Homo sapiens: one gene and its partner. The protein of the gene in region 2 purifies or fractionates together with the protein of the main gene of each other region. This does not show direct contact. Each region holds a gene or a part of one and is shown on either strand. Other genes may lie near its edges.

Region 1 (8,535 bases), on a different chromosome or scaffold from region 2:
GTCTCCTTCAGACTGCACTGGTTTTCCTGCTCTCATCATGGATTTCCCCTCACCATCATGTTGGGGCTTCCTTTGCTTCTGTCCTGTTGGATCCATTGTTTCTTATACCCCTATCTCCTTTCCTGCTTTGCTCCCTCATTTTAGGGGAACATGCCCTTCAGCAATTTCCTGAGAAAAGGATTGTTAATGAGAGATAAATTGTTTTGTGACTTTGAATATCTGAAAGTGCCATTGTTCTACCCTAAAACATATTCAACCATTTAACTGGTATATAATTGTTGGAGGTAATTTTCTCTCAGAATTTTGAAGGCATTGTTCCATTGCCTTGTAGTTATTGTTGAAGTCTAAAGCCATTTTTATTCCTCATTCTTAGTACATGACCTGGTTTTTCTCTGTGGAAACTTTCTGAATGTCATCTCTGTTGTACTGAAATGTTATAATCATGGTAGGCCTTGGTAGGAATCAGTTTTCATTAATTCTGCCAGTTATTAGATGAGCTTTTTTAATGGGAAACTTATGTCCTACATTTCTGAAGGATTTTCATGAATCGTTCTATGGTGATATCCTTCGTTTTCTGTATTCTGTCTTTCTGGAATTGTTCATGTTGTATGTCCTGCACTGATTTTCCTATTCTCTTTTAAAATCTTATTGTTTATAGATAAAAGTTTCTCGTATCTTTCTACAGATATGAATGATATATTTCTGTTTTTAGATTTTGAAGTTTTCTCTTCCCCCTATATGGTATGCTTCCTTCACGTTCCTTTTATTGCTTCATTTTGATCTGCATCTTTGCTGTTAGTGATTTTCCTCAAGTATCTGATGTCCTTGGGCCCTCATTTAAGAGTGAAGGTACAAGAAACAGATCAGAAGGTCTGAATTTGTGGGTGGGGCATATTGGGTTTGGATTTCACAATATCTGGTGTGGTTGGCCCATTTGATTAGGGAGTCTCAATGTCAGTATCTTTAGCCAATGAATTTTTGATGACTTTCCATTTATGTAATGAATTTAACAAGCACTTAACAATGTGCTAGGCACTGTTCCTGCTGACATGTAGCCTTCATGGAGTTGACATTTTAGTATTTTTAAGTCTTTTCCCTTGGGCTCAGTAGATTTTACTGAAAAGCTCCCCAGTCACCATCATTTTGGGGTCTCAGTAGAAGATACCTTGGAGTCTCAGTATTTAATATTTCATTGAGTCTGTGTATCCATTTTCATAATCTCCTGTCTTCCTTTGATACTCTGTACTTTTTCCTCCAAGTGTGCTTGGAATCTCCTGGTCTGGAGACTCTTTAGTTTGTCCTCTCCAAAGAATAAACCTGTCTTCTTTGTCATGAGGTGGGAGAGGGGAGGTGAGAGAGGGGAGGTGGGAGAGGGGAGCGGATCTAGAGTTTCTGAATGCTTTTAGGGCAGTTTGTTTGTTTTTAGCCCTACCATTCATGAGACACACTGGGTGTAAATCACATTGTTTCTATGCTGTTCTCACTCCTGATTTAGGATCTGTTTTCTCTACTGTTTTAACAAAATGTTTATATTCCTCCACCAGCTTTCCAGCTTCCAAACTTTTGTTACTGTTTCCTCTCCCTTTCTGTGTGTCGTTGGGAGCTTATGCCTTTAAAAAAAAATCCTTTTAGTGTGATTTTATTAGTAGTAGGGAATTAGCAGAAAACAAAAGTATATATTTTAGTCCGCCTCATTTCATGTGTTTTGCCCTTGGCTGTATCTGACTAGTTCCAGAGATCTTCCATCCTCCACTCTTGGGTTTTATGTTATCTATATCAATGCTAGTGGAAAAAAAGTAACTCCGGTTATTTAGAATGCCTTATTTACATCGTATTCATGGATGGATCGGGGCGGGTTGGCAGCCTGTATAAGCTGAGAAGTTAAAACATTTCAAACTTGATGATAAAGCCATCCTGAAGATATAGCCAGACAGAACCCTAAAGCTGTCCAGCTTCTCAATCTTGACTATCCCATAAATGAGCATTCTCCCTCAGTCTGGTGAAGAGGTAAACTATCCCTGAGCTTTTTGTGTAACACATTACATCCCTAGAGCTAAAAATGACCCCATCAGTAGTGTTTGTCTTGAAGGAGAAGCTAATTTAATAATTACAATAGTTGATTTAAAACAGTGGTCCCCAACCTTTTTGGCACCAGGGACCAGTTTCGTGGCAGATAGACAATTTTTCCACAGATGGGAAGGGGGTACATTTCAGGATGAAACTGTTCCACCTCAGATCGTCAGGCATTAAGAGTCTCATAAAGAGCACAGAACCTAGATCCATCACATGTACAGTTCACAATAGGGTTCATGCTCCTATGAGAATCTAATGCCGTTACAGGCGGAGTTTAGGCGGTAATGCTCACTCACCCACCCACCCACTGCTCACCCTCTGCTGTGCGGCCTGATTCCTAACAGGCCACAGACTGGTTGTTTGGGAGACCCCTGGTTTAAAAGCTTGTTCTTAATGCCTTAATGGAGCATGGGAAGGAAATTTTAGACTTCCTGTCTTTTGGATACTTGCTGAGGAACTGGACTTGAGACCAACAATAAAGGAATAGGTAATGACACCTAATTGGTGACTGGACCTGAATACACAATGTTTGCTATGACCTACAGATGACAGAAAGTTGGAAGGTTTTATATTTGACTCCCGTTTCTTTGGCCATTTACTGCTAATAGTCTCATCTGCAAAATGAGGGGTTGGACTAGATGATCTCTACTTCCCAGCCTAGTTGAGTAGATTACCAACAGCTAAGTTTACACTGCTGTGCCTAGTTTTCTTCTTTTGAAATGATTCTTGTTTAGTCAACTTTGCAAAATTCCTTTCTTTTTGACATATCTGTTTATATTTACATTTCCAGTTTTACTGGTTACTTGAGTTTAACATTAGCCAGCTTCCATTATCCTAATAAACAGTAAGAATTCTGTCACTGAATATTTTATCTGCCAGGTTTGTTCTTACCACTTCCTTTAATGACTCCTTAATTATTCCATCTTCTTATTAAATAGTGGGGTTTCTAGTTTGAGAGGGAAATGATTTGCTCTGTGAATGTGTGTACACTGTATATGTGTGTGTATATATATATATATAAAACATACATACATTTTTGTATGCATAAATATATATAATTTTTAAAAATCTGTTTAGGGCTTCAAGCAGCAAGCTCTTACAGTATCCACAGATCCTGAGCATCGTTTTGAGCTTGCTCTTCAGCTTGGAGAGTTAAAAATTGCATACCAGTTAGCAGTGGAAGCAGAGGTATGTACTAATTCATGATTTTTCATAACTGATGGAAAAGTCAGTAGGTACTTCTATGTGTTTGGTGTAATGTTTTGTTATTAAAGTTTTCCCAAATGCAAATTAGTGGCTCATTTTGTTGAAGTTATTGTCTCTCTCTTATCTTTTTAAAAGATGTATTATGTTAAACTTTGCATAAGTTAAATTGATTACATTGGAGATATTCTTAGCACTCTAATTTGTTTTAAGAAAAATTGTTTTCATATCTTATGTGAGCTCTATTTTGCAAGATAAGAAAAGATGTAAAATAGTATGTAAACTAGTCTGGAAAGCCTAAGAGTACAGACATAGCAGTTATTTGCCAATGTCTGAAACTAACTAAAAATATGTTGGTTTTGAAAGACAGCCCAACCCCCTCATCTTTTGGTGTTGAATAGAGCAGGCAGTCAGAGAAGGACAGTGCTGCCTTGGTGGCACTCACCTTCAGCAGCAGATGCTCTTAGCACATCTGGTCTAAATGTTTGAGCTAAATGAGCTGTTCAGGGAGGCTCAAGTGGGAGAAATGTTAATACCATTTTTGTAATGATATTTTTATAGATCTTTGTATATTGAGGCTCCCAATTGTTTCAGACTGGCATTTACTGGTAAATTAATTTCAGATGTGCAAAATAAATTTTAGCTACGTTAAGATCATCTAAACATGCAGCATTTTGAGTTCTGAAAAGCTACAAGTGAGACATAATATTATTGTGAAATATTTAAAGACGTAGTTTTGTATGCTTTCAAAAAAGTGATATTAAATCACTTGTTAAAATAATTGCAGTCTAATTGCCTTAAAACTCCAGTGAGATGGTTTTACTTTCCCTGTGTAATTATAAGATAAAAGTATAATGGGTTGACGATAATTATTTGCACATCATTAAAATTGATTTGTGTTTAAATTCATTTTGTATACATTAATAATTTCCATTTCCTCACTGTACATTTTGCAATGCCATTCTTATTTTGATAGAGCCAACTTAACAAACACAGCTCTTTTTATAAACATTGTCTGCACAGTTAACAGAATAATGTTGGAAATGTAAATGCTTATTTCTAAAGATATTTTAACTTGGAAACTCTTTTCTTACAGTCAGAACAGAAGTGGAAACAACTTGCTGAACTTGCCATTAGTAAATGTCAGTTTGGCCTAGCCCAGGAGTGCCTGCATCATGCACAGGATTATGGGGGCCTGCTGCTTTTGGCCACTGCCTCTGGAAATGCTAATATGGTGAACAAGCTAGCAGAGGGTGCGGAGAGAGATGGCAAAAATAATGTGGCATTCATGAGCTACTTTTTACAGGGCAAGTGAGTATTAATTTAAAAGATTAATTAATTCTACACTGAGGATGGTTTTTGGAGAGGGAAGTGAAGAATGAACCCTGGAGAGAACTGATGAATGGCCAAATGGTGTTGAATAGACGGGGCAGTCAGAACAGGACAGTGCTGCCTTGGTGGCACTCACCTTCAGCAAGGGATGCCCTTAGCACATCTATCTAAATGTTTGAGCTAAATGAGCTGTTCAGGGAGGCTCAAGTGGGAGAAATGTTAAACACCTTCTTCAACAGCCCTGCCAGTTAATGGTGGAAGCATTTTATTTTATGATTGCAGGAGGCTATTGAGCTGCTCTAGTAGGTACCTGAAGGGCAGGTGATTTTACCCAAATTGGATAACTTTGATCCATTTATGGCAAGAACAAAAGGGGATAAGTATGCCACTTACTTGTAGATTTGAGCCCACTATAAAGCATAAAGATGTCTCATATTTTTAAGTCTAACCGAGTTAGCATAAACCAAATCATTTGGACATTAGTTGGCAGTATTATGAAATAAAACACAAAAGTATTCTTTCCTTTTTTTTTTTTTTTTTTTGAGATGGAATCTCACTCTGTTGCCCAGGCTGGAGTGCAGTGGCATGATCTCGGCTAATTGCAGCCTCTGTCTCCCTCGTTCAAGCCCTTCTCCTGCCTTAGCCTCCCAAGTAGCTGGGATTACAGGCATGCGCCACCACACCCGGCTTGTGTTTTTAATAGAGATGGGGTCTCACCATGTTGGCCAGGCTGGTCTCAAACTCCTGACCTCAAATGATCCGCCTGCCTCGTCCTCCCAAAGTGCTGGGATTATAGGTGTGAGCCACCACGCCCAGCCCGAAAGTATTCTTTAACCTTCTCCTACATACTGATTTTTTTTTTTTTTTACAATCCCATACTTCGCCATATAACTTTGAACGTGCACCCCATTGTATGTATGTGAATGTATTTATGAATTTATATACCTGTAAGAATAGACCCTATTCCTTATCCATAATTCAAAAATCCAAAAATATTCTGAAAACAGTTATAACTGTTTTGATGGCAAGACCTGAGCTGAACTGCTTTAGTATTTTTAGTTGCTTTTATACCAACTTGGTACATTTTTATTGCATTTAACATTCCTATGTAAGTTATTGCAGTATTAATGTTTGTGGCTTTTTCATGCTGAGGATGTAAGGTAATACATAGTATACATACTGTATCACCTTTCGAAAATCCAAAAAATCCTGAATTCTGAAACATATTGTCCACATCATAAAACTTGCACAGAAAAAAAATGAAATTAAAATAGAAGAAAAAATAAGACACCATGGTATTCTGCTGGGCACCACTGGCTTGTCTGGCCCTTCCCATGTTGGAGACACTGCCCTAGATATTTGTCTTGTGGAACTGAATTTCTGCTGGCATATATCCTTATGCCTTTAAAATTTGCTAATCTAACCTGCCTTAACTCCTCTTGAAAAGCCCCTTTAGGTTCTTAGGAATTATAATAATTAAGTTAAGTAGATTCAAAGTAGTCAGGAAAGCTGTCTTATCCCTCATACCCTTGCAGTGTGTTGATTAACAACCATTAAAAGACAAGTGACAGAAATGAGATATATGTGTGAAGATTGGGGAGATTTTTGGCTTTGTAACACTAAATTTACTTTGTGTTAAGTACCCATTATTATAGTGTTTATTCTTGGTAACAGTACCTCTCCTTTTTAATGTTTAGGGTTGATGCCTGCCTAGAGCTCTTAATTAGAACTGGACGGCTGCCAGAAGCTGCCTTCTTGGCCCGAACTTACTTACCCAGTCAGGTTTCAAGGTACAGACTTTTAATTTTAGGAAGAAATGTTTCCAATAAAAAGAGAGCACATTTACTTAGTCTCTCTTTGGTTCCATGATGTCTATAATAGGGTAGTGAAACTCTGGAGAGAGAATCTCTCAAAAGTCAATCAGAAAGCAGCAGAATCCCTTGCTGACCCAACAGAGTATGAAAACCTGTTCCCTGGATTAAAAGAAGCCTTTGTTGTTGAAGAATGGGTGAAGGAAACACATGCTGATCTGTGGCCAGCCAAACAATACCCACTTGTCACGGTGAGTGGCCAGGATGTCAAGCTTCATTTATTGTAACTACAGGGTGGAAGTACATTCAGGACTTCAGATTTTGAACTGCTGTCTTCTTTTAAAATTAAGAGCTGATATCTGGGATTTAGGCCAAGTTCATAGGTAAATTATGATTTCAGAATATCTCATTTCATCATTGCTTTATTCTCTGATAGCCAAATGAAGAGAGAAATGTCATGGAAGAGGGAAAAGACTTTCAGCCCTCAAGATCTACAGCTCAACAGGTCAGTAGAGCACTTCATGTGATAAATTTGGCTGAGATGGTTCACTTTTTTTTTTTTTCTTTTGAGACAGAGTTTCGCTCCATTGCCCTGGCTGGAGTGCAGTGGCGCGATCTAGGCTCACTGCAAGCTCTGTCTCCCGGGTTCACGCCATTCTCCTGCCTCAGCCTCCCGAGTAGCTGGGGTAATTACAGGCGCCCATCACCGGTCCGGCTAATTTTTTTGTATTTTTATTAGAGACAGGGTTTCACTGCATTAGCCAGGATGGTCTCGATCTCCTGACCTCATGATCCACCTGCTTCGGCCTCCCAAAGTGCTGGGATTACAGGCGTGAGCCACTGTGCCTGGCTGAGATGGTTCACTTTTAAACATCATCTCCCACTTCCTAATTCTGATCATCCTTTTCTTGGGGGAAAACTTTAAATTCCCGAGTAAATTCCCTTGTCTTCATATATATCTTCACTTGTGGTTTCAGGAACTTGATGGGAAACCTGCTTCTCCTACTCCGGTTATTGTGGCCTCCCACACAGCCAACAAAGAAGAAAAGGTAGGTCAGACATCATACTCAAACCTCCCTCTACCCCATCTTCCTCCCCATCAATATCTGGAGGATACGTAGGCCTCTGTGGTTTAAGTGACATCAGTTTCAGAGCAGGGGCTTTGAAATGGGAAGATGCTCTTTTTGACTATTAAGAAAATCTTAGTTCTCACTTTGAATCATGAACCCACGGATAACTTTCCTTTAACAGTACTGTAAAACTTAATTACCCTCTTCCTTTTGTCTGCAGAGTTTACTCGAACTAGAAGTAGATTTGGATAATTTGGAATTAGAAGATATTGACACAACAGATATCAATCTGGATGAAGATATTTTGGATGATTGACTGTAATGCTTTCCATTTACCTGACTAAACAGATCATTATTATATATAGGTATTGATTGCTACCCTGACCACAGTGCTTTGGACTATGAGAAACTTCTTAGATTTTTATATGTAAATGCTGTGGACCACTGGGAGCACAATGCCCACATCATCTTAAGAAGAGTTTATGTGCAGCATTTAAATCACTGTGTTTTCCTTGTTAACTAAAACAGACATGGGCTTTGATTTTTTTCATACTATTAGACCATATCTCATAAAACCTTTTGAATTAATGAAGGTACTTGTTTCCTTTCTCAATAATGAAAATAGGCTTCTAGTTTTAGAAGGCTGAGCCGAAACTACACCTTGCCTAGGGATCAGCCCCACTGTCTTTTCTTTGTATAACTAAATCTGCATTTTCAAATGTTGTCAATCACATTTTTCTTAGAGCTGAATATCCAGGCTGTAATTCTCTAAACCCTTTTTCTTGACCTCATTGCATCATTCCACAGGTCTTGCCCCGATTTTGTCTAGCAGCTACCCATTTCTGGAGTCAGGATGTGAAACCTCTGTTCCTCTGACCTCATTAAGCTGGGGGTCTGTCTAAGTTAACGTTTGCCCTATTTGGTAACACAAAAACACACCAGACTTTTTAACCGTACGCTCATCTAACATGATTTGAGAAATTCATAACCAGGCACTCAAATATCCTTGTAGCCTACGAAAAGTGAGTAGGGTAATAATTTTTGCT
Region 2 (9,516 bases):
AGCCTGGCGACAGAGTGAGACTCTTTCTCAGAAAAAAATATGATAATTAAAAGTTGAGACGTTCTTCGCCGAGAGTGGTCGGGGTTTCCTGCTTCAACAGTGCTTGGACGGAACCCGGCGCTCGTCCTGCACCCCGGCCGGCCGCCCATAGCCAGCCCTCCGTCACCTCTTCACCATGCCCTCGGACTGCCCCAAGGCCCCCGCCGCAGCTCCAGCGCCGCGTAGCCACCACTGCCGCTGCCGCCGCCTCTCCTTAGTCGCCGGCATGACGACCGCGTCTACCTCGCAGGTGCGCCAGAACTACCACCAAGACTCAGAGGCCGCCATCAACCGCCAGATCAACCTGGAGCTCTACGCCTCCTCCATTTACCTGTGCGTGGCTTACTACTTTGACAGCGATGATGTGGCTTTGAAGAACTTTGCCAAATACTTTCTTCACCAATCTCATGAGGAGAGGGAACATGCTGAGAAATTGATGAAGCTGTAGAACCAACGAGGTGGCCGAATCTTCCTTCAGGATATCAAGAAACCAGACTGTGCGGGGAGAATGCGATGGGAGAGCGGGCTGAATGCGATGGATTACATTTGGAAAAAATTGTGCATTTTGCATTACATTTGGAAAAAAATGTGAATCAGTCACTACTGGAACTGCACAAACTGGCCACTGACAAAAATGACCCCCATTTGTGTGACTTCATTGAGACACATTACCTGAATGAACAAGTGAAGGCCATCAAAGAATTGGGTGACCACGTGACCAACATGCACGAGATGGGAGCGCCCGAATCTGGCGTGGCAGAATACCTCTTTGACAAGCACACCCTGGGAGACAGTGATAATGAAAGCTAAGCCTCAGGCTAATTTCCCCATAGCCATAGGGTGACTTACCTTGTCACCAAGGCAGCGCATGTATGTTGGGGTTTCCTTTACCTTTTCTATAAGTTGTTCCAAGACACCCACTTAAGTTCTTTGATTTGTACCATTCCTTCAAATAAATAAATTTGGTACCCTCCCCCCCCCCAAAAAAAAAATGTACTGTGGGCTGGCGTAGTGGCTCATGCCTAAATCTCAGCACTTTGGGAGGCTGAGGCGGGAGGATCACCTGAGGTCGGGAGTTTGAGACCAGCCTGGGCAACATGGTGAAACCCCGTGTCTACTAAAAATATAAAAACTAGCCAGTCATGGTGGCACACACCTGTAATCCCGGCTACTTGGGAGGCTGAGGCATGAGAATCACTTGAACCTGGGCTGCGGAGGTTGTAGTAAGCTGAGATCATGCCACTGTACTCCAGCCTGGGTGACAGGGAGACATTCTCTCTCTCAAAAAAAAAAAAAAAAAAAAAAAACAAAACAAACCAACAAAACAAAGTAATCCAGGAACAACAACATGATGAAGGACTGCATGCAGGACTCAGTGATGGATGGTGGAAGACAGCCAGGAAGTTAAGCATGACTCTGGTATTAAGTGTTGTCTGGGAGAGTTAAGATTCCATTTACAGAAATAAGACCTGTAGGGGAAGCTCTTGATTTTTTTTTTTTTGCAGACTGCTGATTTCCTGATTACATGTGTTAAGTTTGAGGTATAGAGAGAAAGAACATCCTGGCCGGGTGCAGTGGCTCACACCCGTAATCCCAGCACTTTGGGAGGCCAAGGTGGGCAGATCACGAGGTCCAGGAGATCGAGACCATCCTGGCCAACATGGTGAAACCCCGTCTCTACTAAAAATACAAAAATTAGCTGGGCGTGGCGGCGCGTGCCTGTTATCCCAGCTACTCAGGAGGCTGAGGCAGGAGAATTGCTTGAACCCGAGAGGCAGAGGTTGTGATGAGCCGAGATCGCGCCACTGCACTCCACCCTGGCAACAGAGCTAGACTCTGTCTCAAAAAAAAAAAAAAGAAAGAAAAAAAGAACATCCTGTAGAAACAGGCAGTCAGAGGTATAGAACTACACAGAATCCAAGAGATCTTTCAAGAAAAGTGACATGCAGCAAGAGAAACTATCAAGGGGGTAAACAACCTATAGAATGGGAGAAAATATTCACAAAGTATACATCCAACAAAAGTCTAATATCCAAAATCTATAAGGAACCTAACAAGCAAAAAGCAAATAACCCCCTTAAAAAGTGGGCAAAGGACATGAACAGATACTTCTCAAAAGACGTACATGTGGCCCACAAACATGAAAAAACGCCCATTTCTAATCATCAGACAAATGCAAATTAGAACCACAAAGAGATACCATCTCACACCAGTCAGAACAGCTTTTGTTAAAATGTCAAAAAATGAGAAACGTTGGTGAGGCTGCAGAGGAAAGCAGACACTTGTACACTGTTGGTGAAGGTGTAAATTAATTTAGCGTAGGCACAGTCAGTTTGGAGATTTCTCAGAGAACTAAGAGTGGAACTACCATTAGACCCAGCAATCTGATGGCTGGATATACGGCCAAAGGAAAATAAATCATTCTGCCAAAAGAACATATGTACCTGTATGTTCATTGTGGCACCATTCACAATAGCAAAAACATTGAATCAACTCATGTGCCCATCAGTGGCGGACTAGAAAAGAAAAGAAAATATGGTACATAGCCATCATGGAATACTATGCACCCATTAAAAATAATGAAATAATGTCTTTGCAACAACATGAATGTAGCTGGAGGGCATTATCCTAAGCAAACTAACACAGAAACAGAAAACCAAATACTGCGTGTTCTCACGCAGTGAGAGTGGGAGCTGAACATCAAGTACACATGGATGTAAAGATGGCAACAATAGACATGGGTCTACTAGAGGTGGTGGTGCGGCAGGGTGGGGGTGGGGGTTGTGTGGCAGAGGAACAGCTGAAAAACTACCTATTTGATACTATACCCAGCACCTGGGAAACGGGTTCAGTCATACCCCAAACCTCAGCATCACACAGTATACCTTTCTAACAAACTTACACATGTATTCTGTGATTCTAAAATAAACATTGAAAAATAAAAAAAAAACTGACATGGTTTGTACTGTTTAATCTGACATAATGGCTAGGGGAAATGAAGTCTGCAGAATGGCTGTTTACGGATGTTGTTGTTGTTGTTGAGATGAGGTCTCACTATGTTGCCCAGGCTTGAACTCCTGGCCTCAAGCAGTCCTCCTGCCTTGACCTCCCAAAATGTTGAGATTACATGCATGAGCCATTGCCAAAACGGCTATTTGGATTGCTGTTAAGGTTATTACATTCTCTGTGTAGTAAGACCTTGAAGGAGAAGGATTTGAGATCAGGAGTTTAAGAAAAAATGTTAATCTAGGAAGAGAGGATAATTTCTGTGTTTGGCCAGTTGCAATGGCTCACGCCTGTAATCCCAGCGTTTTGGGAGGCCGAGCTGGGCAGATCACTTGAGCTCAGGAGTTTGAGAAGAGCCTGGGCAACATGGTGAAGCCCCGTCTCTACTGAAAATACAAAAATTGGCTGGGCGTGGTGGCAGGTGCCCACTGTAATTTCAGCCACTCAGGAGACTGAGGCAGGAGAATTGCTTGAACCTGGAAAGTGGAGGATATGGTGAGCCTAGATCGCGCCACTCTACTCCAGCCTGGGAGACTCCATCTCAAAAAAAAAAGAAAACAAGATGCTGAAATGAAGTAATTACCACAGTCAATGTGATCCTATAACTTTGTTTTGTTTTAGAGATGGGGTCTCCCTCTGTCACCCAGGCTGGAGTGCAGTGGTGCATCATAGCTTTCTGCAGCCTCCACCTCCTGGGCTCAGGTGGTCCTCTTGCCTCAGTGTTCCGAGTAGTTAGGACTGACTGCAGGTGCATGCTGCTATGCCTGGCTAACTTTAAAATTTTTTTGTAGAGGCGGGGTCTTGCTATGTTGCCTAGGCTGGTCTCCAACTCCTGATCTCAATCAGTCCTCCTGCCTACCTTCCCAGAGCGCTGGGATTACAGGTGTGAGCCATCGCACCTAGCCAATCTCATAACATTTTATGACTAGCAAACTTAGTAGTTCTGATTCAGGCATAAATCAGTTGGTGGGGTTATACAAGGTTGGGTGAGTTTTTCTAGATTTCTAAGAGACCATGTTGAAATACTTGGCTCTGTCTCAGTAAGGGATAGAGAGAAGCAAAGGTGTGGGTAAAGGTTATGAGCAGACATGTAAAGGGGGCAAATTAAAGTGTTTAGGGAAGGTGAAACAGTTCCAAATCATAATATAGATCCCAAGCCTCACCAAGAAGTGAAGGAGAGGGTAATTGTGCGATAGTTCTCAGGACTGAGACCTCAAGGTGTAAGACGAATCTTTATTGTGGGTGGTCCTCTTTGAGAAAAAGAACAAAAAAGAAAAATGTGAAATGGGTGCTAAATTTCAGAGCAGAATATACATATATGTGTATGTGTGTGTGTATATATATATATATTTTTATGTAGCAAATTCCAGTTTACAAAGGGCTTTTATGTGTTTTGCATCATTACAACAGTTCTGTGATGATGTGGATGTGGTGGATATTGTAATTCCACATCACAGAGGATAAAATTGAGGCACACCATAAGGTAGCTGACCAGAGATCATGCAGTATATGGTAGAATGGCAACTTGAGGCCAGTTCTTAGGTGTGTTTGTTGTCCTTATTCAGAATGGAACAATGTGGTTTATTGTACAAAAATTTAAAAATGAATGTCGAAAAGTAGAAATTATTACCCAAATCTCACCCTCTGTGGTTGTTTGCTATGTGATCTTCCAGACTCACATATACATGTAGATAATTTTTTTTTTTTTTTTTTGAGACGGAGTCTTGCTCTGTCGCCCTGGCTGGAGTGCAGTGGCGCAATCTCGGCTCACTGCAGGCTCTGCCTCCTGGGTTCACGCCATTCTCCTGCCTCAGCCTCCCAAGTAGCTGGGACTACAGGCGCCCACCATCACCTCCAGCTAATTTTTTGTATTTTTAGTAGAGACGGGGTTTCACCATGTTAGCCAGGATGGTCTCGATCTCCTGACCTCATGATCCGCCTGCCTGGGCCTCCCAAAGTGCTGGGATTACAGGAGTGAGCCACTGTGGCCGTCCTCACATGTAGATACTTTTTTAACTTTTTGCTTTTAACCACTTAAGATATTGTGAACTCATTTCCAAATTAACATATATTTGCTTTTAACAGCTACATTTCCACTGGAGTTACGTACCATTTGTAATCTATTCCTGGAAATTTAGATGGTTACAACTGTTTTTTATTTTATTTATTTATTTATTTAGAGACGGAGTCTGACTCTGTCACCCAGGCTGGAGCGCAGTGGTGTGATCTTGGCTCACTGCAACTTCCACCTCCGGGGTTCAAGTGATTCTCCTGCCTCACCCTTCCGAGTAGCTGGGACTACGGGCGCACACCACCACGCCTGGCTAATTTTTGTATTTTTAGTAGAGACGGGGTTTCACCATGTTGGCCAGGATGGTATTGATCTCTTGACTTCATGATCTGCCGGCCTTAGCCTCCCAAAGTGCTGGGATTACAGGTGTGAGCCACCACGCCTGGCCTCAACTGTTTTTTATTATAAATAATGCTGTAGGCCGGGCGCGGTGGCTCACTTATGTAATCCCAGCACTTTGGGAGACTGAGGCGGGTGGATCCCGAGATCAGGAGATCGAGACCATTCTGGCTAACAAGGTGAAACCCCGTCTCTACTAAAAATACAAAAAATTAGCCGGGTGTGGTGGTGGGTGCCTGTAGTCCCAGCTACTTGGGAGGCTGAGGCAGGAGAATGGCGTGAACCTGGGAGGCGAAGCTTGCAGTGAGCAGAGATCGCACCACTGCCCTCCAGGCTGGGCGACAGAGCGAGACTCCGTCTCAAAAAATAATAATAAATAAATAAATAAATAAAGCTGTGTACAGCCTGGCCAACACTTTGGGAGGCCGAGGCAGGCAGATCACAAGGTCAGGAGTTCGAGACCAGCCTGACCAACATGGTGAAACCCCATCTCTACTAAAAATACAAAAGTTAGCCGGGCATGGTGGCACATGCCTGTAATCTCAGCTATTCAGCAGGCGGAGGCAGGAGAATCGCTTGAACCCACGAGGCGGAGGTTGCAGTGAGCCAAGATCGCGCCACTGCACTCCAGCTTGGGTGACAGGGCGAGACTCTGTCTCAAAAAAAAAAAGAAGAAAAAATCCTTTATTCTGGTTTTCCCGTAGCTTCCACAGATCCAAAAGGGTCAGGTTTATTTCCAGTAGCCAAATATTCTGCCATCTGGACTGAGATATCTCCTAGGTTGAGGTTATTATAGAGGTAGTAACCTGATTCTTTCTTCCTTTTCTCCTTCCCCTTTCCTCCTTTGCCTCCCTCCTCTTTTCTTCCTCTGTATTTATTTTATCATTCCTTCTTCCTTTCTTATTTCTAGGCCATATAGGCCAGCCAGGGAAAGGTTAGTAAGGGGTGACATTGATCCCTATGACCTGAGGAATATTCTTCGACCTTGAGACATGCCGATTATGCTCTTCTTTTCCTAGGATGCTCACAACTGTATTCCTGAGCTGGACAGTGAGACAGCCATGTTTTCTGTCTACGATGGACATGGAGGTAACTTTAACAGATCATATTGGTAACATTCTAGGACCCCAATTCCAGACGTTCCAGGGCAAGAACAGGTCCCTTTGTTCATTTACTTTCCAGGGTCTGGCCCTCATTATCATTTCCTGCGTGGTGCTGTTTTTCTGTATTCTGTCATTCTTTTTTCCCAGTAGGTACTGTATTGGTTTATAATCTCACCAGGACTTGTTTTAATCCAAAGAGCCTCTATCTTTTTTTATTTTTATTTTTTAAAATTTTTAGGCTGGGCACGCGGTAGGTCACACCTGTAATCCCGGCACAGTGGATCACGAGGTCAGGAGTTCGAGACCAGCCTGACCAATATGGTGAAACCCCATCTCTACTAAAAATACAAAAATTAGCTGGGCGTAGTGGTGGGCGCCTGTGGTCCCAGCTGCTCGGAAGGCTGAGGCAGGAGAATCGCTTGAACCTGGGAGGTGGAGGTTGCAGTGAGCCAAGACCATGCCACTGCACTCCAGCCTGGGCAACAGAGCAAGACTCTTGTCTTAAAAAACAAAAAAGTGTACCCAGTTGAGCTGATTCTTTATCTTTTTTTCACTGGAGAACTAAGTATACAGGTGAGAAAAGACGAGATATTTATACCCGAGAGAATTGATGGTGAAATCCATTTTTTTGGATCAGAACTTCCCCAAACAGTGTCCTTCAAATAGGGTTCAGGGGTGCTAAGATATTTATCCCCTCAACCCTTGGGGTTCACTCCAGTATGGCATATAAATATTGTATCACTTTCTATGTGTGGGGAGCAGTGCTCCAGGTGACCTTCCTTCCTTTCCTTCTAGGGGAGGAAGTTGCCTTGTACTGTGCCAAATATCTTCCTGATATCATCAAAGATCAGAAGGCCTACAAGGAAGGCAAGCTACAGAAGGTCTGTCTGCTTACACCGCCCATTCCTCACTTGTGTAGGCTTTTCCCTTGTTCTCTAGCCCTTGGGCTTTTCCTTTCTTTTTGTCCTCTAGCTGCTGCTGCTTATTTACTCTTGAAGAATTCTGTTCCTAAAACGAGCTTATTGGCCGCCTTTTAGACTTGCCTTATTATTCCTAGGCCTCTGAGCTGTTTTTATCTGTGAGTGTCTCTTAGTGTGGTGGCTCACACTCTTAATTTGTATTCCATCCTTGTGCTCAGGATTGTATATAGGGAGTTCATTTTGTACTAGTCTTAGACTATTTTGCTTATATTCAGGCTTTAGAAGATGCCTTCTTGGCTATTGACGCCAAATTGACCACTGAAGAAGTCATTAAAGAGCTGGCACAGATTGCAGGGCGACCCACTGAGGATGAAGATGAAAAAGAAAAAGTAGCTGATGAAGATGATGGTGAGTGTGGCATCCCTTGTTTGAGGGGAAATCAGCATTTTAAGAAATATTCTTTAATATTACTTATCAATTCTAAGATAGGATGGCTTTCTAGGGACCTGGGGAGTCCTTATGTTAAAGAAACCTATGATGTTCTCCTGCATTGTATGTGGTTATGAAAAGGAGGGAGAGAATTATCTTCGTTGAGTGGCATCTGAGCTGTAAGCATTGTATATACATTATCTTTTGTCATTGTGATGGGGTCTTCCTGGTTCCTGCTAGTATTTATGTGCTTTTTTTTCCCCTCAAGACTGGAGCAGTTATTAGCCCCAATAGCCAATCATTAAGCCTAAATCCTAATTCACAGTAGCATTGTGGGCTTCCTGGATCCTCAGCCAGAATAGGGTTTTTACAACTTAACAATAAAAAATGAGACGTCAGAGGGGAAGTATAGTAACTAGTGTTGTTTTGATTAAGAAGGGGATGAAACACAAAAACCAAAAGAAGTCTGTGGAGGAGGAGGAGCTAGGGCATGTTCTTCTGAGACTTGAGCGAGAGGAACCTTGGGAGTGGGAGGTTGTGGGGAAGTTAGAGGCTGCAAGGGCTGTTGAGGTAGTGAGAGGGACGGATCCCATGAGGAGTCTGGCATGGGGGCTCTGATTTAGCCTCTTCCCTGCAGTGGACAATGAGGAGGCTGCACTGCTGCATGAAGAGGCTACCATGACTATTGAAGAGCTGCTGACACGCTACGGGCAGAACTGTCACAAGGGCCCTCCCCACAGCAAATCTGGAGGTGGGACAGGCGAGGAACCAGGGTCCCAGGGCCTCAATGGGGAGGCAGGACCTGAGGACTCAACTAGGGAAACTCCTTCACAAGAAAATGGCCCCACAGCCAAGGCCTACACAGGCTTTTCCTCCAACTCGGAACGTGGGACTGAGGCAGGCCAAGTTGGTGAGCCTGGCATTCCCACTGGTGAGGCTGGGCCTTCCTGCTCTTCAGCCTCTGACAAGCTGCCTCGAGTTGCTAAGTCCAAGTTCTTTGAGGACAGTGAGGATGAGTCAGATGAGGCGGAGGAAGAAGAGGAAGACAGTGAGGTAAGGGCCTGTGAGGGCAGGCAGATGCTGAAGTTGCAGAGAGGTCCTGTTTGGTTGCCGTCTGTAGTTTTCAACTCTCTTTCCTTCTCCTATTTTGACATCATCCCCCAAGACCCACTGTATTCTAAGCTTTAGTCTTGAATTCATTGAGCTCCATCATCACAGGTACCATTTGCCTTTTTACCTCTTCCTTTGTTGGTACTATAACAAGCAGATCTAGTTCTGGCTTTTCAGAGTCTGTCTCCTAGAGAGAGAACAAGGAGATAGTTGTTACCTTGGCTAGTTGACTGTTTTCTTCTCTGGAAAATTTATTTTCTGGCCACAGTGCCTGAAAGATATTTTTGGCTGGCAGCCCTTGCCTTGTCCTGGGCTTTTTGCTAGTGACTGCTAAGCCCAGTTCAGGATGTCAGTTGTACTCATGCTAGCCCTTTCCATCCCCCCAATTTTCATGACCATATACTTGTATCTTTCAGTGTTTTGAGGACCTGTGTTCAGTCAGGACCTCTTGATTCTGAGTATGAGCTGTGGGGAGGGAGGGGATCATCCCAGTCTCAGC

Evidence for each region.
Region 1: the proteins of PPM1G (region 2) and COPB2 purify together in Homo sapiens (affinity purification with mass spectrometry; 2 studies listed by BioGRID and IntAct, with this or other methods). This does not show direct contact.

Annotation. Positions count from the first base shown.
Region 1 is NC_000003.12:139,357,133-139,365,667, reverse strand, and holds the end of COPB2 (coatomer subunit beta'), read left to right. Parts: intron 1-3,150; coding exon 3,151-3,261; intron 3,262-4,372; coding exon 4,373-4,587; intron 4,588-6,305; coding exon 6,306-6,398; intron 6,399-6,489; coding exon 6,490-6,670; intron 6,671-6,855; coding exon 6,856-6,924; intron 6,925-7,396; coding exon 7,397-7,468; intron 7,469-7,709; coding exon 7,710-7,805; 3' UTR 7,806-8,262; downstream 8,263-8,535. UniProt on the Homo sapiens protein: The coatomer is a cytosolic protein complex that binds to dilysine motifs and reversibly associates with Golgi non-clathrin-coated vesicles, which further mediate biosynthetic protein transport from the ER, via the Golgi up to the trans Golgi network.
Region 2 is NC_000002.12:27,384,117-27,393,632, reverse strand, and holds part of PPM1G (protein phosphatase 1G), read left to right. Parts: intron 1-56; exon of another isoform or gene 57-1,010; intron 1,011-6,474; coding exon 6,475-6,544; intron 6,545-7,353; coding exon 7,354-7,439; intron 7,440-7,753; coding exon 7,754-7,886; intron 7,887-8,544; coding exon 8,545-8,960; intron 8,961-9,516.